2 separate regions of the Homo sapiens genome follow, and region 1 is linked to region 2. Evidence: fine-mapped expression QTL. A gene starts in region 2. The other region holds a variant in brackets. All regions are shown on one strand. Distances are between the middles of the regions.

Region 1 (15,473 bases), 31 kb before region 2:
GAGATTCCGTCTCAAAAAAAAAAAAAAAAAAAGAAAAAGAAAAAGAAAAGAAAGAGTTCTCAGTGAACACTTAGTGTTTCTCATTATTTTGCACCTCTTCTATTGAATGTAGTCATTCTCCTTTGTTAGGTCAGGAACCCATGAGAGCATCTGACTGAAAAATCACAGACCATCACCCTATCCAAAAATGCATATATGGGCCAGGGGTGGTGGCTCATGCCTGTAATCCCAACACTTTGGGAGGCCAAGGCAGGCAGATCACTTGAGGTCAGGAGTTTGAGACCAGCCTGCCAACGTGGTGAAACCCCATCTCTGCCAAAAATATAAAAAATTAGCCGGGTGTGGTGGCACACACCTGTAATCCCATCTACTCAGGAGGCTGACATAGGAGAATCGCTTGAACCTGGGAGGTGGAGGTTGCAGTGAGCTGAGATCATGCCACTGCACTCCAGCCTGGGTAGCAGAGCAAGACTCTGTCTCAAAAAAAAATGTATATAGGTACACATGTATATGTACCATTTTGCAACATCAGGATGCTGAAACTTCATAGGTGGCTGAAACTTGCAGTCTTCAGGTTGAGAATTCCTGTCCCTCTGTGTCCAGCAGACAAGTGCTACCTGAAGGCCATGACGAATTGAGACAAAATTCTAACACTGCTACGTTATTGAGAGAAAGGATGAGAAGGTATGAAACAAATTTTAATGATGAATTTTTGTGGATTTTTGAAATGCATAAATGGGATGATTAATAATAACAAAAAAGCTCTGTTTATATCATCATAAAACACACTATAAATCTACGGGATTCAGTCTCCACTTGTATATCATCTGACACAGAGCTGAAGGTGGAGGAGAAAGGTTAACCCTTCTCATTCCCTTCCCCACCCCACATACAGTTGGCCTTTTCTGGTCAGGTTTCCGAGGCAGTAAGCATTTTTTTGAGCGCCTACAATGTGCCAGACACTGTTCTGGGCACCTGGGTAGAAAGAAAGATCTTGAAGACTCTTGCCCTGTAGGGAAGTTTATAGCTTGGGGAACAGTGGAGGAAGAACAGAAAAAAAATCACACTAATATTTAATTACTTAAAAAAATTGTTTTTTCAAGGCTGGGTGCGGTGGCTCATGCCTGTAATCCCAGCGCTTTGGGAGGCCAAGGCTGGCAGATCACCTGAGGTCAGGAGTTTGAGACCAGCCTGGCCAACGTGGTGAAACCCCGTCTCTACTAAAAATACAAAAATCAGCCGGGCATGGTCGCATGCACCTGTAATTCCAGATACTCGGGAGGCTGAGATAGGAGAATCGCTTGAACCCAGGAGGTGGAGCTTGCAGTGAGCCGAGTTTGCGCCACGTCACTCCAGCCTGGGTGACAGAGCAAGACTCTGTCTCAAAAAAAAAAAAAGTTTTTAAAACAGAGGCAGGGTCTTGCTATGTCGCCCAGACTGGTCGCCAACTCCTGGACTCGAGTGATCCTCCCGCCTTGGCCTCCCAAAGTGCTGGGATTACAGGCCTGAGCCACTGTGCCTGGTTCAAATCACACCAATAAAAGGGGTCAAAGGATGTGTTCAAATAGACTTGTGGAAAAGCTGAGGCAAAAAGAGGAGGTACTAATTTTGCCTGGAGGCAGAACTAGAAAAGAGCCCTGAAAAATGGGGAGGAGGGGCAAGATTCAGGAAGTATTCCAGGCGGGGAAGCTTCTTTTTCCCCTTTTAGCCATAGGAAGATAGAATTCCTGGGTCCCTCTTCCTGCCTCCACTAGTCTTGTCACCTGAGTTCCATACCAGCTATTTCAAAAAGAGAAAAGGCCCAAGGGTGTACAACCTTCCCTCCAGCAATAAGTAAAGGTGGTTACTATGTGCGAGGAGCTCTGCCAAGCATTGCCCAACTGTTACCTTTAATTCATACAACGGAACGGTGGTGTGTACTGTCACCATTTTCCTGAGAAAATTGGGTTTCAGAGCTAGAACTTGTCTCTTGTCACACAGTTATGGAGTGGCTAAGCCAGAACTGAAGCCGAGTCGACCTGACTTCAAAATTCACCTTCTGGCCAGGCATGGCGGCTCACACCTGTAATCCATCCCAGCACTTTGGGTGGCCTAGGCAGGGGAATCACTTGAGTCCAGGAGTTTGAGACTAGACCGGGCAACATGGCGAGACCCTGTCTCTACAAAAAAATGGAAAACTTAGCTGGGCATGGTAGCGCGAACCTGTAGTCCCAGCTATTCAGGAGTTGGGAAGATCTCTTGAGCCTGGGAGGTTGAGGCTGCAGTAAGCTGAGATGGCACCGTTGCACTGCAGCCCAGGTAGTCTGGGCACCACAGCAAGACCCTGTGTCCAAAAAAAAAGAGAGAGAAAGTCTTTATTTTGTTTGTTTAGCTTTTCTGTGGCTTCAGTCTTTAGTTTCCTTTTTGTTTATTTATTTATTTATTTATTTCACTATGGAAAATTTCTAACATAAAAGGAGACAGAATGGTATCATAAACTTCCACGATTCTATCACCTAGGTTCAATAATTAAGAATTCGGCCAGGCGCAGTGGCTCACACCTGTAATCCCTGCACTTTGGGAGGCCAAGGTGGGCAGATCACCTGAGGTCAGGAGTTCGAGACCAGCTTGGCCAACATGGTGAAACCCCGTCTCTACTAAAAACAAAAAATTAGCCAGGTGTGGTAGCACACGCCTGTAGTCCCAGCTACTTGGGAGGGTGAGGCAGGAGAATTGCTTGAGCCCGGGAGGCAGAGGTTGCAGTGAGCCGAGATCGCACCACTGCACCCCAGCCTGGGTGACAGAGCGAGATTCCATCTCAAAAAAAAAAAAAAAAAAAAAAAAGAATTCATGGCTAATCTTATTTTATGACTAATCCCTTCCTGGATTATTCTGAAGCAAATCATATCATGGCATCATTTTCACCCATAGACTTCAGTATGCCTCTTGGATCCCTTTTACTTGATAAGTTCCTCCTGCTTGTAATGTATTTGTTGAAGAAGCTGGGTCATTTATCTCATGGAATTTCTCACCATCTGAGTTTTGGCGACTGCATTCAGCAGTATCATTTAACACGTTCCCTGTCCTTGGCATTTCCTGTAAACTAGTAGTTGGATTTAGAGTAGTGACCAGACAGGTTAGTGATTTTTGGCAAGACTACTTCATGACTGTTTCTCATCGGGAGGCACTCATGTATTTGTCTTTTGACCGTCATTGATGATCAAAGTCCAGGCCTGTTAATTTACTAAAGATGGCAAAATGGTGATATTGTAATCCTTCTAGTCTTTCTCTGTTTAATAGCTGTAATACATCCAAAAAAGGTTTCCCTGATCGTCTATGCAGTTAACATAAGCTATATTTGTCACTGGAAAGGTAATATAAATGCTTCTCTCTCTTTATTTGCCAATTTTCAAAATAACAAATGGATCCCTAGCACCCACCAAAAGTGACCAATAGATTTAATTTTTAAAAAGCATGAATTCATGGTTTTAAACATTTGATGAGCTTCAATTCATCACAGTTATAATTCTTATTGATGCTCAGATTATCTTATTCTTTGGTTAGTGGGGGCCTCTTCAAGTTGACTGAGTCTGTTTTTTTGTTTTTGTTTTTGTTTTTTTTTTAAGGGAGGGGGTTACTATGTTGCCCAGTCTGGACTGGAACTCCTGGGCTCAAGCCATCCTCCAGCCTCATGCTCCTGCCTCATCCTCCTGAGTAGCTAGGACTATAGGCAACTAAGTCTTTGTGATATTTTCTTTTTTTTAAACAGGGTATCGTTCTGTCACACAGGCTGGAATGCAGTGGTGCAATCATGGCTCAAGGGACCCTCAAACTCCTGGTATCAAGCGATCCTCCTGCCTCAGGCTGCAGAGTAGCTGAGACCATAGGTGCATGTTACCATGCCTGGTTAATTTTTCAATTTTTTGTAGAAATGGGGGTCTCACTATATTTCAGACTGGTTTCAGACTCCTGGGCTCAAGCAATCTGCCCTCCTTAGCCTCCCAAAGTGCTGGGATTATAGGCATGAGCCACTGCAATAATTTTGGTGATTGCAACCAGCAGTATGATTTAACATGTTCTCTGTCCTTGACATTTCCTGTAAACTAGAAGTTGGATTTAGAGTAGTTGATCAGATTTAGGTTAGGGATTTTGGCAAGACTACTTCATGACTAATGTTTTTCATCAGGAGGCACATAATATCTGGTATTTGCCTTGTGAAATCACCCTATTGTTCTTGATAAATGCTTGATTATCAGGTGTATAATATGATGTTCCAGGCTCATCTTGTACATTTCTTTCCCAGGAGCCCAGATCTGGAATCAGCCATTTTTCTAAGGAGCCCTGCTTTCTTTTAGTAAATGGCATTTAGAGATCATATTCTGTGTGCAAGAAATGCTTGCTTTTGAATTGATGATGGTTTCTAGAAAGAATTTTTTACAAGCAAATACTTTATGGATTCTTACTAATAGTTCTATTTCAAATTTAGGTAAGACTAAAGTGTTTCTACTTAACTTTATTGATCTTATATCCATACCTGGGATGTAAAACATCCCACTTTTCAAAACAACATAATTACTCATTGCTTTATCCTATAATACATGCAAAACAGTCTTACCAACTGTATTAGTCCATTTTCATGCTGCTGATAAAGACATATGCAAGACTGGAAAGAAAAAAAGGTTTAATGAACTTACAGTCCCACATGGCTGGGACGGCCTCACAATCATTGTGGAAGGCAAGGAGGAGTAAGTCACATCTTACATGAATGGCAGCAGGCAAGAGAGACAGCTTGTACAGGGAAACTCCCACTTTTAAAACGATCAGCTCTTGTGAGACTCATTTACCATCATGAGAACCGCACAGGAAAGACCTGCCCCCATAATTCGATCACCTCCCACTGGGTTCCTCCAATGACACACAGGAGTTGTGGGAGTTACAATTCAAAATGAGATTTCGGTGGGGACACAGCCAAACCATATCATCCCGCCTCTGGCCCCTCCCAAATCTCATGTTCTCACGTTTCAAAACCAGTCATGCCTTCCCAACAGTCTCCCAAAGTCTTAACTCATTTCAGCATTAACTCAAAAGTCCACAGTCCAAAGTCTCATCTGAGACAAGGCACATTCCTTTCGCCTAGGAGCTTGTAAGATCAAAAGCAAGTTAGTTACTTCCCAGATACAATGGGGGTACAGGTATCGGGTAAATACAGCCATTCCAAATGGGAGAAATTGGCCAAAACAAAGGCGCTCTGGTCCCCATACAAATCAGAAATCCAGCAGGGCAGTTAAGTCTTAAATCTCCAAAATGATCTCCTTTGACTCCATGTCTCGCATCCGGGTCACGCTGATGCAAGAAGTGGGTTCCCATGGTCTTGGGCAGCTCAGCCCCTGTGGCTTTGCAGGGTACACCCTCCCTTCTGGCTGCTTTCATGGGCTGGTGTTGAGTGTCTGCCGATTTTCCAGGCACATGTGCAAGCTGTCGGTGGATCTACCATTCTGGGGTCTGGAGGACAGTGGCCCTCTTCTCACAGCTCCACTAGGTGGTGCCCCAGTTGGGACTCTGTGTGGGGACTCCAACTCCACATTTCCTTTCCACACTGTCCCAGCAGAGGTTCTCCATGAGGGCCCTGTCCCTGCAGCAAACTTCCTGGATATCCAGGCGTTTCCATACATCCTCTGAAATCTAGGCAGAGGTTCCCAAGCCTCAGTTCTTGACTTCTGTGCACCCACAGGTTGAATTCCACATAGAAGCTTCCAAGGCTTGAGGCTTGCACCCTCTGCAGCCACGGCCCGAGCTGTACCTTGGGCCCTTTTAATCATGGCTGGAGTAGCTGGGATGCAGGGCACCAAGTCCCTAGGCTGCACACAGCACGGAGACCCTGGGCCTGGCCCAAGAAACCATTTTTTTCCTCCTAGGCCTCTGGTCCCGTGATGGGAGGGGCTGCCATGAAGACCTCTGAAATGCCCTGGAGACATTTTCCCCATTGTCTTGGAGATTAATATTTGGGTCCCCATTTCTTATGCAAATTTCTGCAGCCAGCTTGAATTTCTCCTCAGAAAATAGAATTTTCTTTTCTATTACATTGTCAGGCTGCAAGTTTCTGAACTTTTATGCTCTGCTTCCCTTATAAAACTGAATGTGTTTAAGAACGCCCAAGTCACCTCTTGAATACTTTGTTGCTTAGACATTTCTTCCACCAGATACTCTAAATCATCTCTCTCAAGTTCAAAGTTCTGCAAATCTCTAAGGCAGGAGCAAAATGCCACCAGTCTCTTTGCTAAAACATAACAAGGGTCACCTTTGTTCCAGTTCCCAACAAGTTCCTCATCTCCATCTGAGACCACCTCAGCCTGGACCTTATTGTTCATATCACTATCAGCATTTTTGTCAAAGCCATTCAACAAGTCTCTAGGAAGTTCCAAACTTTCCCACATTTTCCTGTCTTCTTCTGAGCCCTCCAAACTGTTCCAGCCTCTGCCTGATAACCCAGTTCCAAAGTCGCTTCCACATTTTTGGGTATCTTTTCAGCAGCACCCCACTTTATTGGTACCAATTTACTGTATGAGTTTATTTTCATGCTGCTGATGAAGACATACCCGAGACTGGGAAGAAAAAGAGGTTTAATGGACTTACAGTTCCACATGGCTGGGGAGGCCTCACGATCACAGCGGAAGGCAAGGAGGAACAAGTCACATCTTACATAGATGGTGGCAGGCAAGAGAGGGAGGTTGTGCGGGGAAACCGTTTTTAAAATCATCAGATCTTGTCATTCACTATCATGGGAACAGCGCAGGAAAGACCCACACCCATAATTCAATCACCTCCCACTGGGTTCCTCTCATGACATGTGGGAATTGTGGGAGTTACAATTCAAGATGATGTCGGGGTGGGGACACAGCCAAACCATATCACCAACACGACCACATTTCTCATTTCATTACTAAAAATGGTTTCAGATATTTTACAAGGTTTTTTGGTTTGGTTGGACTGGGTTTAAGTTTGGTCATTAGGGGATCTCCCATTAGGAATATACAGTGGAATTCCTGAGTGTTAAGGTCATTTGCAATAGTTTCTCACTGTGTAGTTACACCATCAACTCAACAGATTGACTTGTTTCATTTTGTCAAGTCTAATTTGGTTTTATACTTTTCTAAAGTACTATATCCACAAACTTCCAACATAAATCTATAAAACAAGATATATTTAGAAAAGTCTAGCTTCTATCCCAATCCTCTCACTTTATTTCCTCTCTCCTCCTATGTGATGTATGGTATATTCATATTCCCCTCTCCAATGATAGCATATTATCAGAATTTTCTTCACCTGGCTTTTTACTCATTAGGTTATATTCTGGTGATCACAACATATAACATAGAAATATGCCTCATTTCCTTTCAAAGCTGCATGGCACTCCATTATGTGTAGGTATCTTAGTTTATTTACTCCGTTCCCTATTGATGGGCATTGAGTTATTTCCAGTCTTTTGCTACTACCAATGTTTCTGTAATAAATAGCCTTATGTATATTAATTTTTGAATTTTTGACTGTGTGCCGTTTTTATTTTTATTTTTTTTAGAGATAGGGTCTTCCTATGTTGCCCAGGCTGGTCTTGAGCTCCTGAGCCCAAGAGATTCTTCCACTTTAGCCTCCCAGAGTGTTAGGATCGCAGGCATGAGCGACCACATCCAGCTGAAAGTGTGTCTTTAGGATGGATTCGTAGAAGTGAGATTTCTAGGTCAAAAGGTAAATGTCTATCTAAAATTGCTGGATATTGCTGCATTGCTCAAGAAACTTATTCTGTTGTGGAAGGAATTATAATGAAGGGATTAGGAAGTGGAGGAAGAAAACTGAGACCTCCCTGAAGGGCTGACATCAACCTCCCTATAGGAAGGACCCACCTTGACAGGTGGTTTGTTCACATGCGGCTGAGAAGATTAGGGTGCTTTTCACCCTTCCCAAATCCTCACTGAAAGGAGGTGGTGCCACTCCTCACCCTGAACCTGTTGCCATGCGCTGCCTCACCAGCTCCTTAAAAGGAAGGCAGTGGTTAATGTTAAAGCAAAATGAATAAGCCTCATAAACTAAAAAGTGGAAAATAACCTAGCAACTTATTACCATCCAATTTCAGTCAGTTCACTCCCTCAGGAAAGCAAATTGCAATCAGGAGATGGTGCCATGCAACCTGCAGCAGCGCGTTTGCAGAGGACAACCCAGGGTCGAATGGGCCATCTCCCTTAGCTGGAAAGA[C/T]GGCAGGCCACGTTTCTCAGCACTGTTTTTTTCAGCTTCTGATGACACTGAGGATCTCCTGGAGAGTTCCCTGGCAGCAGAGCAAGGAGTTTTGATTTCTGAGTGTTTCCCTGGAGCAAGGGCCTGCCCTGTTGGCTACAGGCACCGTCTGGTGAAGTGTAGATCTGCCAGGCTCCTTGATATGCTTGTTCCAGCAAACTGATGGCACTATCTCTGATGCCTCCACCAGATTTTGCCACTGTCTACCTTGGATGGTCACCCTGCATGGACAGGCCTGGCTTTGCATACAAGGCTATATATTGTGGGGGACTGGTCAGAGCGGTGGAAAAACTATAGGGAAAGGATGCAAACCTTCTGAAAGGTCAGAAGGTTCTGCAGAGCCTGGGGGGAGAATAGCAGAAAGCAGCTGTTCTATAACCCTGGGGCAGAGGGCAAGGAGTAGGTACAAGGGAGTGTGGGGGAATTTATCTTAAACAGGCTTGTTTACTTATGTTGACCAGGAACTGACTGTTGATCATCCGCGTGCATGATGTTGCCTGAAAAGGGAATGATAAATGTTAATTACCTGCAGGTTGTGTTGGCTCCAGGTTTTCGTCATTGTGCCTGCACTGAATAAAAGCAAGCAGCTCCAGCTCTCGGGCTGCTCTCTGGACACTAGAGCCAGGCAGTCGCCTAGCTGCTCTTACACTGCATACCTCTGTCTGAGTACTCATTTCATCTGTCAGCCAGGGTCTGCGGGACAGACCCAGCAATACATGCCCTGAAGACGGGGGTCCTGTCAGCATCACCTCTGGATCCCCAGGAATGCTGGTGCTGACACCAGGGTTTACCACCAGCTGGTAAAACTAGGGCAGCCTAAAAATGGGAACCCCTTCCAAGCCTTTTGTGAGGATTTACAGATGCAGAGCTGTGGTATGGAGCCCTTCGTAAAGTATCAAGTCAAATACAGATGCTCCTCGACTTAAGTTGGGGTTACGTCCACCGGCCATGGTGGCTCATGCCTGTAATCCCAACTATTAGGGAGGAGGAGGTGGGAGGATAGCTTGAGCCCAGAAGTTCGAGACCTGCCTGGGCAATACAGCAAGACGCCGTTCTCCACAGAAAGGAAAAAAAAAAGACAAAAAAAAAAAAAATAACCAAGCAAGTGTAAGATGGGGTTATATCCCTGTAAACCCATCATCAACTGAAAATATCATTAAGTCAGTCACCATTAACTCAGGGACTGTCTGTACAGGCATTGTTATTATTAGAGTAAGCACTTGATAAATGCTTAACAAACGAGTAAATAAATAGTGGTGTGGAAAAAAAAGAATGATGAGAATAAACGTCCCCGAGGCCAGGCGTGGTGGATCACGCCTATAATCTCAGCACTTTGGGAGACCGAGGTGGACAGATCACTTGAGGTCAGGAGTTCGAAACCAGCCTGGCCAACATGATGAAACCTCATTTCTACTAAAAATACAAAAATTAGCTGGGCATGGTGGTGTGAGCCTCTAGTCCCAGCTACTCGGGAGGTTGAGGCAGGAGAATCACTTGAACCTGGGAGGTGGAGGTTGCAGTGAGCCGAGAACGCACCATTGCACTCCAGCTTAGGTGAAAGAGTGAGACTCTGCCTCAAAAAAAAAAAAAAAAAGAGTAAGTGTCTCAGGAGTTTCAATTAGTGGGGGGGTGGGGGCAGTGAAGTAGAGTGATTGGAGGATGGTTGGGTTTGGACGGATTTGGAGATGTTGGCATATGGGAGTGGGGAACATTTCTAGGAAGGGAAAATTTACATTCGCATTCAGTTTAGCAACAAGCACTGTTTATTTGCAGCAACATTCTGGTCAGAGGAGTCCTCTAAGTAAGTTGGGAGAAACAGTACAAAGGTAACTAAATGATCACTAACACCAATTGTGTCACTTTGTGCTGAGTGACCTCCTTTAATCCTCGTGGCAGCCTCATGAGAGGGTATTATCACACTCAAGTAATAGAGGAGGGACGTGAGACACAGCAAAGCGCATAAACTTACCTGCAGGAGAGCGAGAGACAAACCACTGAAGAGCCTTTAATGCCCAAGTAGGAATTTGAACGACCACAGTCAGAAGGGAGGCACTGAAGAGACTTGAGCACAGGAGTGACATGGTCGTATGGGTGCTTCAGAGAAACGCAGTATTGTATAGCAGCTGGGAGTTTGGAGTTTGGCACCAGACCACTTGGTTCTTCTAAAATCCCAGTTCCGGCCAGGCGCGGTGGCTCACCCCTATAATCCCAGCACTTTGGGAGGCTGAGGCGGGCAGATCACCTGAGGTCAGGAGTTTGAGACCAGCCTGGCCAACATGGCGAAACCCTGTCTCTACTAAAAATACAAAAATTAGCCAGGTGTGGTGGTGTGTGCCTGTAATCCCAGCTACTTGGGAGGCTGAGGCAGGAGAATTGCTTGAACCCAGGAGGTGGAGGCTGCAGTGAGCCGAGATCACATTACTGCACTCCAGCCTGGGCGACAGAGCAAGACTCTGTCTCAATAATAATAATAATAATAATAATAATAAATAAGTTAAATAAATAAAATCCCAGTTCTGCTCCTTGCTTGCTGTGAGATCTTACAAATATTATTTAACTGCACTGAGCCTCAGTTTCTTCATCTATAAAATGCGGGTAATAAAGGCACCCAGCTTATGGGGTCTTTTAGAGGAATAAAGTAACACATGTAGAACACAGCACAGTGATGCCGTGTATGTGTATGACAATTGTAAGTTATCATGAATATGTTAGCTATCTACCGGGTGGCCTGGAGAGAGGTCAGAGGTAGGGGGCAGCAGCAGGCACAGACTGAAGGCAAGGGTGGAATAGAGAGTAAGATATTTTAAAGCAAGCCTCAATAGGAATCATTACTTGCACACGTGGGATAACAAAAATACCTAAGAATGACTCTCAGATTCCCAGTCTTTTCTTTTTTCTTTAAGTATTTGCCCTTTTCTTTTAGTTTCTCAAGATTCCCAATCTTTTTATTTATTATTATTATTTTTTGAGACGGAGCTTCACTCTTATTGCCCAGGCTTGAGTGCAGTGGCACAATCTCGGCTCACTGCAGCCTCTGCCTCCCAGGTTCAAGCGATTCTCCTGCCTCAGCCTACTGAGTAGCTGGGATTACAGGCATGCGCCATCATGCCCTGCTGGTTTGGTATTTTTAGTAGAGATGAGGTTTCATCATGTTGGCCAGGCTGGTCTCGAACTCCTGACCTCAGGGGATCTGCCCACCTCGGCCTCCCAAAGTGCTGGGATTACAGGTGTGAACCACTGCGCGCGGCCAAGATTCCCAATCTTATTCACTGAGAAGAAAAGGGCTTCTGTCCTTCCTGTAGAAGATAGATAGCCATAAAGGGGGGAGAAAAAGAAAAGGATGAGGGGGCTTCTGATAGAAACGCGAAAACTCGGAGAGAAGCTAGCTTTTTGGAGCAAGATCACACTTTGGGAGGATGTGTGTATGTGGGGTGGGGGTTGTCAAAAGGATCCTGGGTTCTATTGCCAGCTCTGCCACCAGTTGGCTGTGTCCCCTTGCCAAAAACCTCTTTCCTTTTCTGGACTTCAGTTTTTAGTCAGTGAAATTAAGCTTTTACACTTGAGATCTTAGAATTCTCTCCCAACTCAGATGTTCTCCAGTTTCACCTGATCACTGTATAGCACTTGAAAGGGAGGATAGTGCTAATAGCCTGGCTCTTAGGAGACTTCTTTGAAAAAAAGAAAAAGAAAGAAAGAAAGAAAAAAAGATTTTTAAAATTTATTTAATTTTAATTTCTTTTCTTTTTTCCTTTTTTGAGACAGAGTCTCACTGTCACTCAGGCTGGAGTGCAGTGATGTGATCTTGGCTCACTGCAACCTCTGCCTCCCAGGCTCAAGTGATCCTTCCACCTCAGCCTCCAGGTATCTGGGACTACAGGTGCACACCACCATGCCTGGCTAATTTTTGTATTTTTTGTAGAGATGGGGTTTTGCCATGTTGCCCAGGCTGGTCTCGAACATCTGAGCTCAAGTGAGCTGCCCACCTTGGCCTCTCAAAATTCTGGGATTATAGGCGAGAGTCACCGCACTCCGCCTGTAAAAGAAAAATTTAAAGTAGAAATGGAGGGGTTTCACTATGTTGCCCAGGCTAGTCTCAAACTCCTGGCCTCAAGTGATCCTCCTGCCTCAGCCTCCCAACACACTGGGATTACAGACACGAGCCATTGTGCCCAGCCCTTTTCTTGAGGTTCAAGGAGAGGTGATGGGAAGAGGCAGCAATATGAGAAGAGGAAACCTCCTTCTTCTTTTTTCCTGCTCCCTTAAATGTTGGACTTCAGGCCCTGCAAGAGACCCCTTGGCCAGGCTCTCCAAAACAACCCCTGCATGGATCCTCCCATCACTCAAGAGATTCTGGGAACTGGTGTCAGAGAAAGCCAAGTGCAATGTTGATTTTATTCAGCTGCACTCTCTTCCACTTGGTTGGTTCCTGACTGGGCTTTTGTTTTTCTACCAGATTAGAGAAGAAAGGAAGGTTGTTTTAAAAAGTTCACTATCCTTAGCAACAGTGAAACCAGAACACTTGGTGGTGGCTGGGGCCCAGCAGAGCCTGTGTTTACCCAGAGGGTGCACTTGGGGGTAGGAGGTGGAGCATCACCTGCCCAGGTGTGTGGCCTGGACGTGGCCTCAGGCAGGTGTTTAGCACCTTCCATTTAGCACAGCCTGAAGGAGAATGGGCACCCAGTCTTCTGGGAAGACCTGTATTTTGAAATAGAGTTTTACATAAAATAAAACAGAATAACCAGGGCTGAAGAATGCACGCGTCGAATGCATACCAACACCTGGAATGACATTTGATCTGAGGAAATGAACCCCTTGGAGGACATTTTTTTTTTCCAAATAAAATGCCAGTTATGTAACACAGCCAAATAGTACCACAGAGACGGTGCCCTCTCTCTCTTGTTTTATTTTTATATTTATTTTATTTTTTAATTTTTGAGGCAAGGTCTCACTCTATTGCTCAGGCTGGAGTGCAATGGTGCATTCATAGCTCACTGCGGCCTCGAACTTCTAGGCTCATGTGATCCTCCTGCCTCAGCCTCTCAAACAGCGGGGACTGCAGGTGCATACCACCATGTCTGGCTAATTACTTTTTTGTAGAGATCTCCCTACATTGCACAGGCTGGTCTCAAACTCCTGGCCTCAAATGATCTGCTGGCCTCAGCCTCCCAAAATGATGGGATGGCAGGTGTGAGCCACCGTACCTGGCCTTCCCGTTTCTTATGAGCTGGCACCTGTGGCTAGACCATTTCCCTCAGGCATTGACAACATGTAGGAATTAAACTAAGGGATTCAAAATTAATTCTAACATTTAGTGACTCATACTTGTTTTAACTTTAATTGGTCCTCAGACTTAATGATAGACGACACATTCACCTTCAACAGGCTTCTTTCAGCTCACACAGAATCAGCATTATCATTTCTGTTAGCAAACATTTATTGGGCATTTTTTTGTTAAATAAGATCTTGTTTGTCTAAAATGTTTTATATACTTTAAAGCACCATGCAAAGATGATACTGTGCTTGGTGGATTCATGGACTCCAAAAATACCATGCTCTGTATTTTACAGGTAGGAAAACTAAGGCCCTGGAAAGGAAGAGACTTACTAATCATCTTTCCCTATTTTATTTGTTTTTGTTTCTTTCTTTTTTCTTTCTAAAAAAATATTTTTTGAGGCCGGGTGTGGTGGCTCACGCCTGTAATCCCAGCACTTTGGGAGGCTGAGGCGGGCAGATCACTTGAGGTCATAAGTTCGAGACCAGCCTGGCCAACATGGTGAAACCCTGTCTCTACTAAAAGCACAAAAACTAGCCAGGCATGGTGGTGAACACCTGTAATCCCAGCTACTTGGGAGGCTGAGGCAGGAGAATTGCTTGAACTCGGGAGGTGGAGGTTGCAGTGAACCAAGATTGCACCACTGTACTTTAGCCTGGGCAACAAAGTGACATTCTATCTCAAAAAAAAAAAAAAAATTTAACCCAGTTCATAACTTTCCCTATTTTAAATGATAGCACCAGGCGCTGATGATTCAAGGAGATGAGAAATGCAAGTAATAGTCTAGCTCTTGAGAGAGGACACTGAGAAATGAAGCCCAGAGTGTCTAATCCCTCATTTGGACTTTACTTGAAGAGCATGTCCTGATGCCTCTGAGGGTGACCTGGTGACACAGGAGCTCAAATCTTCAAAGCAAGTTTGAAGACAGTAGCAAAACCTAAAAGGGAAGAGGGTACAGGAGTGACTGGATACAAAAGAGAATCCATGGCTGCTTGGATCAGATAGTGGGCTGCTGAAGGCAGTGACTGAGATCCTGAAACAAGGTATAGCTCCCAGAGCAGCTGGTATCTGAAGAAACCTAAGTAGCAGGTGCTGGAGAACCACAGTGCAAGGGCGCTGGAGGGATGGCATTATTCATACTCTCAGTCATTTATTCACATTTATTTATTTTTATTGATACACAATGATGTACATATTTGGGGGTTACATGTGATAGTTTATTATTATTATTGAAATGGCATCTCACTCTGTTGCCCAGGCTACAAAGCAGTGGTGCGGTCTCGGCTCACTGCAAGCACTCTGCCTCCCAGGTTCAAGCAATTCTCCCGCCTCGGCCTCCTGAGTTGCTGGGATTACAGGTGCCTGCCACCACACTTGGCTAATTTTTTGTATTTTTAGTACATGTTTGCCGTGTTTGCCAGGCTGGTCTGGAACTCCTGACCGCAGATGATCCACCCACCTCAGCCTCCAAAAGTGCTGGGATTACAAGTGTGAGCCACTGCACCCAGCCATGATAATTTAATACATTCATATAATTTGTAAAGATCAAATCTGTGTAACTGGGCTATCCATTATCTTAAATATTTGTCTTTTCTTTGTGCTAGAAATATTCAAATTATTCTCTTCTAGCTTTTTTTTTTTTTTTTTTGGTGACAAGAGCTCACTATGTTGCCCAGGTTGGAGGGCACTGGCTATTCATAGGTGCTATCCAAGTGCATTAGAGCCTCCAACTCCTAGGCTCAGGCAATCCTCCTGCCTCAGCCTCCCGCGTAGCTAGGACTCCAGATGCATGCCACCACGCCTAGTGTCACTCCCGTTTATGAAGCACTTATTCTGTTTCATGTCACGGGATCCTGGCACAGAGAGCAGGCAGGAGTCCACACAGGCAAGCTGTCGGCATGGGGGATAATCAGGACTAGTGTTAAGCAGGGTAAGG
Region 2 (15,473 bases):
TAGAGCTTGTTGGGCAAACATCATAATCATAATCAAAGTACTTTCTTTTCTTTTTTTGAGATGGAGTCTCCCTCTGTCGCCCAGGCTGGAGTGCAGTGGCATGATTTCGGCTCACTGCAGCCTCCACCTCCCAGGTTCAAGCAGTTCTCCTGCCTCGGTCTCCCAAGTAGCTGGGATTACAGGCGCCTGCCATCATGCCTGGCTAATTTTTGTATGTTTAGTAGAGACAGGGTTTCGCCATGTTGGCCAGGCTGGTCTCAAACTCCCAACCTCAGGTGATCCACCTGCCTCAGCCTCCCAAAGTGCTGGAATTACAGGCATGAGCCACTGCGCACAGCCTCAAAGTACTTTTAATGGACAGTTTTTCTAGGAAAGGCAATGAGTGCTGTGTTTGTTTTGTTTGCTTGTTTTGCCATTTTTTAATGGCAAAAGGTCTTCATAATCTAAACATGTGACCTCTAACCTTTTGTGGAGGCAGCAGAGGGAATACAAACAAGGGCTGAACTCAGTCAGAGATTCTTAGATAAGACACTCCCTCTTGTGAAGTTGTGAATCTCATTTTTCTTCTCTATAAAAGGAGAATCAAAACAATTCCATTGCTAGTCTGACATCGTGGTTGTGAAAATCAATGTTAACTTGTTCTCCACTTACTCAGCATACTTTCTGACTACCGCTGTGTGCTGTGAGGGGCTGAGGATCCAGATGTGGCTGAGGAAGGTCCTGGCTCATGAGGAGGTGGAAGTCTGGGTGCTTAAACAGATAATCCAGAGTTTTGATGCGAGATGAACTCATTCTGGTGAATCACTCTGGCTTCATTTGGTTATAGTGGTCAAGAGTTTGGCCCTGGAGCAAAGTGTCTGGGTTTGAATCCTGGCTGTGCTTTCGGGTGAGTTATTGAACACCTCTTTTTCCATTCTGTAAAATGGGATTTTTAAGCTTTCCTCAATTTGTAAGCAGAAATAATCTTCCTCAATTTGTAAGCAGAAATAAGCTTTCCTCAATCTGTAAACAGAAATAATAGTACCTCCTTCCTAGAATTGTTATAAAGGTTAATGAGATCATATATGTAAAGTTTCTTCGTCTATGAAAATGAACAGAATAGTCACTACTACTTTTAGTGTTGGCATCGTTGTGATGATTAAATGAGATAACATATGAAAGTATTCAGAACCTTAGGAAAAAAACATGAATAAGGTAGACTCATGGAAAACAAAAACACTAAATAGGTGCTTATTCAAGGTTGTAAATGCAGTGAGACAAATATGCACTAAAGAGGGATTCTTTTTGTTTTGTTTTTTGAGATGGAGTCTTGCCAGGCTGGAGTGCAGTGGCGTGATCTCAGCTCACTGCAAACCTCCACCTCCGGGTTCATGCGATTCTCCCACCTCAGCCTCCTGAGTAGCTGGGATTATAGGTGCCTGACATCACACCTGGCTAATTTTTGTATTTTTGGTAGAGACGGGGTTTCATTATGTTGGCCAGGCTGGTCTCGAACTCCTGACCTCAAGTGATCCACCTGCCTCGGCCTCCCAAAGTGTTGGGATTACAGGGGTGAGCCGTGCGCTCAGCTAAAGAGGGATTCTTAGCCTGGGAGTCAGGGAAGGCATTTAGAGATGATATCTGAGATCGTAAATTCATTCATTCAGTCATCCATCAGGTGCAAACATTTGAGTGTCTATCACATGCCAGGCTTCATCTAGTGCTGGGTCTACAGTGATAAGCCAAACTGACTTATTCTTTACCAGTAGCAGCACAAAGAGATGGTTTGGGTGGGGATGGGGGATTTTTTTTTTTTTTTTTAAGAGCTGAGATCTCACTATGTTGCCCAGGCTGGAGTGCAGTGGCACAATCATAGCTCACCATAAACTCAAACTCCTGCGCTTAGGCAATCCTAGAAATCCTCCCACCTCAGCCTCCCAAGTAGCTGGGACTACAGGCACCTGCCACTGTGCCCGGGTGAGAAGGATATTTTATGTGCCTGTTTCCCATAATCCCAAAAGTCCTTCTCACATTTACAAAAATAAACAACCATTATTTTTTCAATCTTACATAAGTGTCATACAACCACAGCCTTGAGATAAATACAATAACAACACAATAAAAATACTATACATAAAAATATGTTTGCATAGAATTTACATCGTATTATAAGTAATCTAGAGATGATTTAAAGTATAGATCACGGGTTGTGGTGGCTCATGCCTGTAATCCCAGCACTTTTGGAGGCTGAAGCAGGTGGATCACCTGAGGTCAGGAGTTCAAGACCAGCCTGGCCAACATGGTGAAACCCTGTCTCTACTAAAAATACAAAAAATTAGCTGGGCCTGGTGGCGGATGCCTGTAATCCCAGCTACTTGGGAGGCTGAGGCAGGAGAATTGCTTGAACCCAGGAGGCGGAGGTTGCACTAAGCCAAGATCATGCCATTGTACTCCTGGGTGACCCAACGAGACTCTGTCTCAAAAAAAAAAAAAAAAGTACACAGGAGGATGTATATAGGTTATATGCAAATACTATACCCTTTTATCCAAGAAACTTGAGTATTTTTGGATTTTGGTATCCACAGAGGTTCTGAAACCAATTCCCTGTAGATATCGAGGGACAACTGTATATGCATTTAAGCCCAAAGTTGAACTTATAAGTTAGTCAGGCAAGAAAAAAAGGGAAGGGAAAGAATAGATTGTACAAAGACCGTGAGTCAGGAAAGAGGTTGGTGCGTTTGAGGAATTGAAAGAAGGCCTAGTGTAGCTGGAGTAACTTGGGGAAGGGGTCTGCGGTGAGAAGACGGGGAGAGCAGAGGAGTGCCAGTGGAGGGGGAAGTGGTGGGCAGGTTACATCCTGCACTGGACTTTGTGGACCCAAGAAGTTCATCTAGTATTCCAAGTGAGGTGGGAAGCAAGTGAAAGCTTTTATCAGCAGCTCTGCTTGAAGTCACATAAACTAATACTCTGGCTGCTGTGTGATAATGCACTGGAGGTGGGCAAGGGCAAAAGCAGAGGAACCCACTGGGAGCGAATGCACTAGTGCCAGGTGAGAGATGAGGGGGCATGCCAGGTGAGAGATGGAGGAGGCATGCCAGGTGAGAGATGAGGGGACATGCCAGGTGAGAGATGAGGGGGCATGCCAGGTGAGAGATGAGGGGGCATGCCAGGTGAGAGATGGAGGGGACATGCCAGGTCAGAGATGGAGGGGGCATGCCAGGTGAGAGATGGAGGGGACATGCCAGGTGAGAGATGAGGAGGCATGCCAGGTGAGAGATGAGGGGGCATGCCAGGTGAGAGATGGAGGGGACATGCCAGGTCAGAGATGGAGGGGGCATGCCAGGTGAGAGATGGAGGGGACATGCCAGGTGAGAGATGAGGAGGCATGCCAGGTGAGAGATGAGGGGGCATGCCAGGTGAGAGTGGAGGGGACATGCCAGGTGAGAGATGGAGGGGGCGTGCGAGGTGAGAGATGAGGGGGCATGCATTATTCTAGTGGCAGTGAAATGGAGCAATGGGGAAGGATTTGAAATGGACTTGGTGTTGGATTGGATGGGGTGGTGAAGGAGAGGGAGGTGTAAAGAATGACTCCCAGGTTTTGGGCTTCAGCAGTTGTTTGGGTGACAGCGTCTTTGCTAAGGTCAGGAGGCCCAGGAGAGAGGAGCTGATTTGGGGAAGAAAGGCAAGAGTTAAGTTTGGGATAAGTGAACTTATCTGGCACCAGTGAAACCCCATGTGAAAATGATAGGGAGGAATGGCCAAGGGACTCTGAGGAGTGGCCTGGGCTGCAGGCATATGGTTGACATTCTTTTTGAGATAGAGTCTTGCTCTGTCATCCAGGCTGGAGTACAATGGTGCCATCTCAGCTCACTGCAGCCTCTGCCTCCTGGGTTCAAGTGATTCTCCTGCCTCAGCCTCCCAAGTAGCTGGGATTACAGGCGCACGCCACCACGTCTGGCTAATTTATGTATGTTTAGTGGATGGGGTTTCACCATGTTGGCCAGGCTGATCTCAAACTCCCAACCTCAGGTGATCCGCCCGCCTCGGCCTCCCAAATTGCTGGGATTAAAGGCGTGAGCCACCATGCCCAGCCTCAGTTTACAGTTATTAATGTACATGCAGATGACAGCTATAGCCATAGTAGATGAGGCCACCAGGGGAGAGCATGTGGATCAGTCCTCTTATCTTTTTTGGGGGACCCAGACACCTTTGAGAAGCTGCTAAAAGCTCCACTTCTTCCTTTAAAAGTATTTGCATCCAAGTTTAAGGAGCTTATAGATCCTTCTGAAGCCCATCCACAACTCTTGTAAGGTCAAGAGATGTCAAATTAAAAACAAACAAACAAACAAAAACACAACAAACCTTGTGTAGACACAGGAATGGATCCTGGGTTGAGCCTTGGGGAACAGCAACATTTAGAGAAGGACAGAGGAAGCACCTGCGGAGGCTGAGATGGAGTAGACAAAGAGAAACAGGGAGGAGGAATTCCAAAATAGAGTATGTTATCAAAACTAACAGCAAAGTGTCTCAAGGATAGGAGATGCATGCTGCTGAGAGAACTAGAAAGATAAGGCCTGCAAAGTGTCCTCCGGATTTGGCAACAGTAATATTTTGGGGAGGCCTAGCCCCTGGAGTTGGCCTAACAGTGGTCATTTTGTGGAGAGCTAGCTCTGTTAGGAGGAGGCTTTGCCTCTCTGGAGTGGGAAAATAGATCCTGGGGCCGATGTAGGATGATGCGCAGATTTGCGGGTGGGAAGATGAGGATTTTTCCTCTTGATGGTGTATGTTTTCTTAGTGAAATAGGAAGTAAGGGGACAGTGAGAGGGAAGGGCATGCAAAGATGGGGGTTTTGAGGATGAAGAAGATGCAAAATAGCCTTTCTGAGAAGTGACGTCAGACCTTACTGGTATGACTGTTACCTCCATGCAGCTGCAATCAGGGTTGGTGCTTACAGTGAGTAGGATCAGAGGGGGGAAGCAGTGGGCTTGGACCCAGAATCATCATGACTTGAGAACCAGTAAGTCTTCCAGGACTTCTCCAGACTGTTCCACTCCCTTTCTCTCGCCTATCTTGGGTTTCTCCTTTTTTCTTGCACCTTCTTTTCCCTCAACCCATAAACATGCTCAAGCCTTTCCTGGTGACTCAGCACTTCCTCTAAAGCCAGTGTCCAAATTCCTTTTTTCACCATTCTCAAAACATCTGTAACAGAAAAGTTTTTGGAATATCCAACTGCTTTTCTCTTTTTCCTATAGCTTTCCCTTGACTGGCTGTATGTTGCCTTACTTTGGCTGCACCTCGAATTCTGGGGCTCTTTGTGATCTTTTAAAAGCCCGAACGCGTTGACAGGTTCATGCTGGGTAGCTTGGAGGTATACACTGCAGCCAGAAGCCTAGGGAAACTCTTAGGATTTTAAATGGAGTGCATTGTAGTTCACTCTGAAGGCTGAATTTGTCTAACAATTCAGGCTGGAAAGGATGGATGCCAGTGGGAACCACCGTAGGAATTTTTTTTTTTAGATGGAGTTTTGCTCTTCTTGGCCAGAGTGGAGTGCAATGGCGCAATCTCAGCCCACTGCAACCTCCATCTCCCAGGTTCAAGCGATTCTCCTGCCTCAGCCTCCCAAGTAGCTGGGATTACAGGCATGTGCCACCACGTCCAGCTAATTTTGTATTTTTAGTAGAGATGAGGTTTCACCATGTTGTCAGGCTGGTCTTGAACTCCTGACCTCGTGTGATCCACCAGCCTCGGCCTCCCAAAGTGCTGGGATTACAGGCATGAGCCACTGCGCCCAGCCCACCATAGGAATTTGAGGCTTATTAAGGAGGTGAAATAGATAGGACTTGGTGATTGGGTAAGGCAGAGGGCTGAATTAAGAATGACTCACTCATTCCCAACTTTCTAATTCTGATGACTGTGGAGATGGTGGTGCCAACAGCTGAGGGAGGGGCAGCTATGAAAGCAGAGAATGAGTTCAGTTTTGGAAATGTCCAGTTTGGGGTGTCTGTGATATCTAGCTAGAGCTGCCTGGCAGGCAATTGGATATTTGGTTCTAAATTTTGTGGAAGGGGTCTGGGTTGGAAATTGCTAATTTGGGAGCTGCATCCATGAGGATGCAGGCAATCCCAGAAGAATGAGTGAAGTGAGCAAAGTTGTTGGCTTAGAGTGGAATCCTGAATTTAAGGTGCAGATTCACAAGTAGATGTTACCAAGGAGGCAGAGGCTTTACTTACCTTCATGTGATAATCCAGAGGGTTCACTCTTCTGAAACCAAGGTAGTAGAGAGATTCCAGAAGGTGAGAGTCATCCCAAGGTGTCAAATGTAGCAGAAAGAACCAGAGAGATAAGGCCTGAGGAATGCCTGCAAGGTTTGGCAAAATGAAAGTCATGAGTTGCTCTTGCCTGAGCAAGGTGAAGGGTTAGAGTTGGGGAGGAGAAGCCAGAATGCCAAGTGTTGAGAAATGAGGAAGCAGAGGCAGCCAGGGAAGACCATTGTTTGAGGTCCGCATGAAACACTTGGAAGCTAGTTGGAGGGAGCACTTCAGGAGGAGGTTGGCTTGATAATTTTGTTTTTAGGACTTGGAGAGGCCAACCTGTTTAAAGGCTGAGAGGAAGCAGCAAGGCAAGGAAGCCTGGGAGGTGGGGGAGGAAGATTTTAGGGCCAGACCCCACCCAGACCGTTTTCTTGTGGTTTGCCCAACACTACCACACACCCCTTAATCTCATTTAATCATTTCAACACCACGAGGTTTGAAACAAACGGTGAGGTATGAAACAAAACGGTGAGGCCAGGGATTGGGAAGAGAAAGCTGTGGTTCCATCTCGGTCCAGCGTGCTGTCCACGCCAAGAGGCGGGCAGAAATGCTAGCCTCACACAATCTAGGGGACCAGGGGTGGCTGTGGCGCCCTCCTGCCCGCAGGAGGTGTTATCAGTGTCGCGGACTCGGGCGGTGTGCTGCCCCTGGTGAGATGTCATCACGTGCGTGGACCAGGGGTGGCGGCCCTGGTAAGTGTCCAGGGACTAAGGGCTCCCTGCTCTCCAGGTGTGGTGGACGGGGTCCGCATGCATGCCGTCCTCTTCTCTAAGACGCTAAGGCGGCTGAGTTCTGTAAGTAGCGGCAAGAAGAACAGTCACGGAGCGGGCCGGGCACAAAGGGCGCAGGCCAGGTGGCCCCAGGCGGAAAGATGGCCGCAGCCAGAGGCTGCAGGTGGCCGGGCGCGCTCCCTGCGCGCGTCGCGGAGAGGACGCAGCGAAAATCAAACCCGCGATTTGGAAATCCGGCTGCGGCCCTACCCCGAGATAAGTCTTCTGCGGAGGGAAGTATTTAATTTGCATCCAGGACGGTCGGAAGAGGCGCCTTCCCGTCGGAGGCGAGGCGCGGGCGCGTGGGAGCTTTCTCGTGTGCGCTCCTCCCTGTCCTCCGCCTGCGGCCGGGGCGCAGAGTCCGTGGTCATATGAGAATGACAGTTTTTTGTCTGTTTGTTTTGGCGGGGGCGAGGGTGGCTAAAGGAATGAAAGAGCCTTGCATTAGGAGCTGGGCTCTGGTTTCCTCTCCACCATTCTAGCACAAGCTTCCTCCATGACCATGACTCTGGGCAACGTCTGTCTAGTCACTGAGCCTCAGTTTCCCTGTTCATAAAATGGGAGATTGGACTATGATGTTGTCATAGCCCAAAGGGGATGAAGTGGGATTTGCCGTTCCATTTCATCCCACCAGAAAAGCCGCCCTCCATTAGCCACCCCGGGCTGACACCCAGCGTTTTTGGACGGCCTCGCCTCCCCTTACCTGCCTCTTTCTTTCTTTTGCCCGTTCGAGGGTGGCAAAGGCGATGGGTGGGCGGGGCCTATAAATCGCCCCGCCCCTCCCCGCCCCTTCCCCGCCTCCTGACGTCGCCCGCGCCCCTCCGCCCTCCGCGCGGGGATGAAGCCACCACGTGACCTCACATCCGGCGCGGGAGTCCTGAGCCCGCGCGCGCTCCCCCGCCTGCCTGCCGGCTCTCCCCGCAGCGTGATCGGGCGCCGCCGCGGAGGGGAGGGGGGTTCTCTACGTCGCTGGCGGCGGGGGGGCCGTTTCGGAGTGCAGACCGCCCCCCTCCCCTGCCCACCTCCCGCCGCCCTCCCTTGTTCTCGCCCTGCCGGCTGCACGCCGCCGCCGCGGGCGCGGAGGAGGAGGAGAGCGCGGACGTCCCAGGGCCGGCCCGGCCCCGCCGCGGCGCCTCCTTCCCTCACCCTGAGCCGCAGCGCGCGGCGCCGGCCGAGGGCGATGGGGCTGGGCTGAGGCGAGGCGGCGGCGGCGACAGCGGCGGCCGGGTCCCCCGCGGTCCCTGGGGCTGGTCCGGCCGCGAGGGAGGCCGCGGAGGAGGCGGCGCGGCGGCGGCCAGTGAGCGGCCCCGGTGAGCGGGGCGAGGGGCGGGTGGGCAGCGGCGCCGGGGGAGGTCGAGGAGGCGAATGGTGGTGTCGGGGCGGCGGGTACCGGGCGAGGTCGCGGCCAGCCTTCTCGGGCCGGAGTTGGGCATCGCGGGGACGGGGAGTGTCGGGGGCAGGTGAGGCCAGGGCAGGAGCCCACGCGGTGGGTGCGAAGGCCTGGGGGGGACGCGCCGCCTGCCGGGGGCGAGCGTGGGGGCCGGGCGCTTGGTGGTTGGTAGTCAGAGCTTTCGGAAAGTCCTGTGGGAGGTGGAGGTCCTGTGGGCAGAGGCGTAGGGGTGCTGGCAGGGCCCTCGATGAGTCTGTGCGGGACCCTAGCTCGTCCTCAGCCGTGGAGTATGGAGCTGCTTGCCATCTCCGCATTTCACAGATAAAAGGAGTGAGTCCCGTGGAGGAAAAGTGACTTCTGACTTGCCTGAGGCCTCCCACTCGGACTCTGTGGCAGTGAGGACTAGAAAAACCCAGGGCCCTTTGCCCTAGCAGTGCTCTCGTGGCCACTCTCGCTATGGCCTTTCTGTCTCTCCATTCCCTTCACAGAGTCAGGTTCTGGTGGAAGTATGACCTCTGGCTTTTTTGGGGAGGTGAGGGGTAGGGATGAAGGGGGAGGGAATCGGGTTGGGATTGGCAGGAACTCAGCTGGGGGCTTCCCGGTGTGGAAGAAGCTTTGTGACAGGTGTTTATTGTTTCCTCTTCCCATAGATCTGACAGACATCCCTGAATCTTGGTGTTTGGACATAGGAGGTATGAATCACTCACATAATTAGCCGCTTTTAATCATCAGTGTCTTAGAGCTATATTTAGTGGTTATATTAGTGCAAAATGAATGGGTGTGGAGTCGTACACCTAGAAACAGACTTGTGTTCCTCTATACGATTCTAACTAAATGAGTAGAACATACCTGGGTATGTCATGGCTACTTTAGATCTATGAGGCAGGAAGTTAGAATTTAAGGAATCTAAGAAATGCAGGGACTTGAAAGATTATTGCAAAATAAAGCCTTTAAAAAGTATCGTTGTTAAAATGAAAGTGTTTCGATTTGATTCCTTTGAAGGGTGAGTACGTAATGAACAGTGCTCTATCTTTGGTTAGAGCTCAGCCTCTTTACCAAGGTACATGTATTAATTTTGTTTCACTGGAATATATGTGACATTATTTTCTCTAGAGGTTTGTTGCTTTGCTTAATAGACTACAGTTGCCAAAAATCAATGTGTGTGGGCATCTCATCCTGGTTTGCAACCCCTTTAAGGCAAATCAGTGCTTGGAAGTTGTTCGAAGTAGTAAACCTATTATTAATGATTGTTGTAGAACATAACTTTTGCTGGTATCTTTGATTTGCATTATCCTACCATTAGATCAGGCAGAGAGTGAAATAATTGAGATTTTGAGCCTTGTTAGAACAACAATGCCTGGCTTTGGTCAGGGGATTGGGTAGGAAAAGTGACACTATTTGGTTGCTTTAAATTTTTTTTTTTTTTTTTGAGATGGCATCTTGCTCTGTTGCCCAGGCTGGAGTGCAGTGGTGTGAACTCGGCTCACTGTAACTTCTGCCTCCTGGGTTTCAGCGATTCTCCTGTCGCAGCCTCCTAAGTAGCTGGGATTTCAGGTGTGTGCCACCACGCCCAGCTAATTTTTTGTATTTTTAGTAGAGACAGGGTTTCACCACGTTGGCCAGGCTGGTCGTGAACTACTGACTTCAGGTGATCTTCCTGCCTAGGCCTCCCAAAGTGCTGGTATTACAGGCGCTAGCCACCGAGCTTGGCGGTTGATACTTACATAGTTAGTTTAGGTCACCAAATATACAACACACAGAATCCGCTTTGGATAAACCACATTATCGAGCTCATTTTGAAATCCTATTTCTGTCTTCAAGATTTTCGAGATTATAAACCACTTTGTTGTCATTCACAAGTATAAAGTTCTTATTTCCAACATCACTGAGACTGAGAAAAAAGACAGAATAAAGATAAAGTTCCATAGGGCGTCCCCATCACTGCTTATTCTCACTGAGTTTGACCATTGAGTAGGTTGTATATCCATAGTAATATGATATAGTGCCTATGTCCTAAGATTACTATTTATCTTAGGAATAAAGCATATTCATATTCTAAAACCTCATATTCACAGTAGTTACAAAACCACCACGTTATACAAGCATAGTTTGATTCAATATATGGAATGGAAGAAGGAAAGAAACCATTATGTGCCAGGAAAAGTGCTCCTTTCTTTACATATGGTCTCAACTAATCCTCAACACTTTCAGGTAACAATATTCTTCTTTGTTAAAAAAAAAATTAAAGAAGTTAAGGAGCTTACAGTATAAGCGACTTTGAAGACAGACAGAAACCTAGCTCTGTGTTAATGTGCTTAACACAGAGGTTTCTGTCTCTGGGTTTATAAGGTTAGTTGTATGTGACTAGGCAACATAACATCTCTGAACCTCAGATTCTGGTGATAAATCAGATATGTCATCTTAATAGGTGTCACACACTAGATCACCTTCTTTTAGCACACAACTGTGAACTGTTTTGACTGTTTTCTTTGATAGGTGATAAGCTGCCAACTCCTATTCCATTTATCATCCATTCAAATATAGCTCAGTTTAACTCTTAGATATGTTGTACTCATCCTTTTCTCCCTTCTCTCTCCCTCCTTAGAATCACATTTCTTATTTTTTAAAGTTTTAAAAACATTTTTTAATACTGCTTCTTGCAGAACAGGGCTGCTCGATAGGCAGTGTGCCTGGAGTAGCCAGAAGAAATTAGAAATTAAATTTCTTCTTGGTGTTACCTCTGAATGTATTCTGAATATGCCATATCTCATCTGGATCCAAGAGGTAGCTGATGGGATTTAGCCTTGGTTTTGGAACATAGTTTTTGTGAAAATGAAGCTAATTGGCCTATGGAGAGAGTAAATCTGTAGTCGTCAAAACCATGTTGAGTTTTTTTGAGATAGGGTCTTGCTCTGTCTCCCAGGCTGGAGTGCAGTGGCTCTGTCATGGCTCACTGCAGCCTTGACCTTCTGGGCTCAAGCAGTCCTCCCACCTCAGCTTCCAGAGTAGCTGGGACCACAGGTGTGCACCATCACACCCAGCTAGTTTTTTTTTTTTTTGTAGAGGTGGGTTTTCACCGTGTTGCCCAGGCTGGTCTCAAACTCCTGAACTGAAGCAGTCTGCCTGCCTTGGCCTCCCAAAGTGTTAGGGTTACAGGCATTTATCACTGCACCCCGTCCTTTTTTCTTTTTTTTTCCCCCCAGAGAAAGAGTCTCGCTCTCTCACTCAGGCTAGAGTGTAGTGGCACGATCATGGCTCACTGCAGCCTTGAGTTCCTGGGCTCAGGCGACCTTCCTGCCTCAGCAACAAGGGTAGTTGGGACAACGGGTGTGTGCCATCATGTCTGGCTAATTTAAAAAAAAATTTTTTTTTTTTTTTTGAGACGGAGTCTTGTACTGTCATCCTGGCTGGAGTGCAGAGGCGCGATCTCCGCTCACTGCAACTTCCGCCTCCTGGGTTCAAGCGATTCTCCTGCCTCAGCTTTCCGAGTAGCTGGGATTACAGGTGCCCACCACCATGCCTGGCTAATTTTTTGTATCTTTAGTAGAGACTGGGTTTCACCATGTTGACCAGTCTGATCTTGAACTCCTGACCTTGTGATCCGCCTGCCTCGGCCTTCCAGACTGCTGGGATTACAGGCGTGAGCCACCACGCCCGGCCTTTAAAATTTTTTTGTAGAGATGAGTATCTCGGTTTGTTGCCCAGGCTTGTCTCAGAACTCCTGGCCTCAAGTGATCCTCCTGCCTCAGCCTCCCAAAGTGTAGGAATTACAGACATGAGCCACCTTGCCCAGCCAAAACCATGTTCTAATTAACCACTTAAGTTCAAATAGCATGCAAGAAGCAAGGAAATTGTTAGGTTCTCGTTTGAGTTTTGTTGAACATCATATTTTGAGAGTAGAGAAGTAAGAGAGGCTCAGATTTCTGGCACATAATTTTAATTAAGATTTAGGTTTAAAAAAATGAAAAAGTTCTGGGCTCAAATTAATCTGGAGAAAAGTAGATATTTGTAAGGTAGAAGAAGGTCCACAGTTAATCAGTTATCACTAGATAACTAGTGATTATAAAAGGAGTTAAAACGATTTGTGTTAGTAGGTTATGCACAGTGACTCATGCTTGAAATCCCAGTGCTTTGGGAGGCCAAGGCAGGAGGATGGCTTGAGGCCAGGAGTTTGAGACCAGCCTGAGTGACAAAGCAAGACTTTGTCTTAAAACAACCAAAAATAATTTGTATTAATCAGGTTAAAAATAGAGGTAAAATGAGATGACATGAGTAAATGGTAATTGGAAAAAATGATCACTGTTATGATAGTTTAAAAAATGACTTTATGGTAATCAGTAAGAAGGGAGAAAAACGGAATAAAGGAGAGAACTGTCCAAATAAGTGTCTGACACTGAGGAAGGTTGTTTGAGGATGGTGATTGCTGAAAAGTTTCCATAAAATGATTCTCTAGAGGGAACTATGCCAATACCATATCTGTTAACATCTTAGACCCACAGGGTCATATTGGAACCTTTGCTAGAGTCTGAGATGGTAAAACATTAACTCGAATAGTAAACGTCAAGACCGCAAAATTAATCTGTTAATCAGAATTTTGTCTTTTTTGTTGATTCTTACACTTACTCCCTGTGGATCTTGGTTTTAAATGATCAATTGACACTCAGAGACTAGTTAGATAAGAAATTAAATTTCCAGAAAAAGTCACTTAAGTATGTAAAGTAGAATTTCCTAATTATGTGGTCTGGAAATTGCTGATGTCTACAGAATCTTTCTCAAGTTTGAAGTAAAAATACTTGTAACTGATGTTGGGTGGTAAGGTGAAAGATGGTTCTAGCTCAGTGAGTTTTTCTTATTTTTTTTTCACAAAGGAGTTGAACATTGAAATAAAGAGGTGTGAGACTGGAAAATAATGCGGAGAGATCATGGATTATTTAGATTAGTGCCTTTTTAGAGAAGAGGAAAGTGAAGTAAGTGACAGCATAAAGGATCCTTTATGGTCTAACCCCAGATCCTTTCTCTAGCTTGGGTGTTCCTTTCACCCTTGCTTTAATTTTGTACTCTGTAGTAATGGCACATCTCAAAACTTTTGCATTTTTTTTTTCCAGTGAGAGCCAACTTTTAAGGGTTGCCTTTGCTTGCTTGACAGACTTCTTGAAACAAACTATTTTTAGTTTGTTTAAAATGAGTCATGGAATTGCTCCCACATATGTGTCTAAGGGTGGTTTCTTCATAGCATCCCTGTTGCTCTGTTTTTTTTTTTTTCCATTTGTGAAATAGGATGAAATATATTTTAGTTATTTATTTTGATATAAAAGACAAGTGTTTTGGGTCCTGATTTTTTTCTGATTGATCTAAAGAGCTGAATAAAGTGCAATCACTGCTCATGGGGCCTTTGGGCCTAAATTCTCAGATAAAAATCCTGTGTAGTCAAAATTACCCTTGGAAAAAGTCTTTTAAAAAGGCACCAGTTTGAAAACTGGTTGGAAACTGACATTCTGTCTTTCAATTCTAGTGTCCAGTTTTTCCTGTAGTTTTAGAGAGGTCCCTTTTTTGGTGAGCTGGAATCCTCACCAGCTGTGTGAGACCGTTTTGACAGGTGAATGGGTCTTAGATTGACTGAGCATAGCGGATTTATAGTCTTCATTTCATGCTCACTCTGGGACAGGGATGTAAAGGAAGGCATACTATCATCATTATTCAAATTATTTTTCTCTGTTGCTTCCCCCCAGAGTGTAAGTAGTTGAATTGGTTTTAATTAAGTGCATATATGATGTGACTCCACAGTGTGAATAATGGAGAAATAACTTAGGTATTTATGAACATCTGCTATCTCCGTAAGGTTATGCCACAAAAAGATCTAGTATAATTAAAAGGCTAGGTAATAAAGTTGAGAATATTAGGAGATTATTGGTACTGTCTGTCATTCTGAGGGGATACTCAACTACTTTGAGTGTTTTTGTTTTGTTTTTTTAAAGAATAAATTTATTCCTTACTGCTAGCAAGATCTGCATTGTTTTAAAAGAGCGATGTAAATTATTAATGGATTCCATGAAATTTAAAGTATCTAAACTTAAGTATTACTCTGGGGATAGCACAGTAAGAAAACATGAGTATGTAAAAACATGATGGTGGCTAAAAACTTAACAGTCTTATGTCCTGGGAGAGGGCATGGTGTATTGGATAAAAATGTGGGCTTCAGAGCCATAGTGATTTTGAATTACAGCTCTGTCACATACCAGTCTTGTAGTCTGGGTTAAGTAAGTCACTGAACCTCTGAGAGCTTTTTTATTTGCCAGATAGAGGTGATAAAGGGTACCTTAGAGAATTGTAAGGATAAGAGTCTGAGTGAAGGGTAACTTATTATTTGTTAACTTAGTAACATTGAAGATATTCAAAACAAGTCAGATGTGTGTGTGGGGTGTGATTGATGATTGCTCTTTGTTTTTTTGTTAACTGGAACAGCAGGCAATAATGTTATATTCAGGCTTTTTATGTCCAAAACAATCTATGATTTTGTATCTTTAGTAGCAACATCCTCAAAAGCTCAAGATGTTAACCTCATGTATCTCCGATATACATTTTATGTATATTTTAGTTTTTCTCTTTGTGTCTCTGGTGTGTTTGCAGTCTGTTTTCTCTCCCATCTTGTTACTGTTACCCAATGTCTCTGTCTCTGACCACCTTATAAAATTTAAAACTATCTGTAATTGTATTTATTTTATAGGACTTTATATGCATTATTTTCATTTAAAAATTCTGATTAGTCAAATATTTCTACTTTTTTTTTAAAGAAGACTTTGAATTATATTTCAATTTTGTGACCTTTAGATTTCTTTAAACATGGAATCCTAGTCACTGGTTCCTTATAGACCGAAGATTTTTCTTTTTTTTAAATTTTATTTTATTTTACTTTATTTTTTTAGACCAAAGATTTTTCATTCATCTCTAGATCATGCCTTAGCTTCTTAAGTCACCAGTTTTCTAAGCTCATTTACAATTTTCATCTGTAGTTTCCTTGTTTCT

Evidence for each region.
Region 1: its variant is fine-mapped to the expression of ATP13A3-DT in tibial nerve (GTEx, PIP above 0.99). The same link has a PIP of 0.9 or more in lymphoblastoid cells.

The regions. Positions count from the first base shown.
Region 1 is chr3:194,510,360-194,525,832 of GRCh38, reverse strand. No RefSeq gene overlaps it. Among named protein-coding and RNA genes, the nearest start is that of ATP13A3-DT, 31 kb to the right of the region's middle. RefSeq lists an enhancer at 4,759-5,053. The variant C/T (reference allele first, on the strand shown) is at 8,227.
Region 2 is chr3:194,479,463-194,494,935 of GRCh38, reverse strand. ATP13A3-DT (ATP13A3 divergent transcript) reads right to left here and starts at 7,796. Exons shown (of 2, transcript NR_033929.1): 1 at 7,764-7,796; 2 at 6,391-7,480. ATP13A3 (ATPase 13A3) reads left to right here and starts at 7,934. Exons shown (of 34, transcript NM_001367549.1): 1 at 7,934-8,370; 2 at 9,101-9,142. RefSeq lists enhancers at 2,651-2,700, 2,741-2,790, 2,801-2,910, 4,662-4,781, 6,915-7,134 and silencers at 7,805-8,464, 8,495-8,544, 8,635-8,694.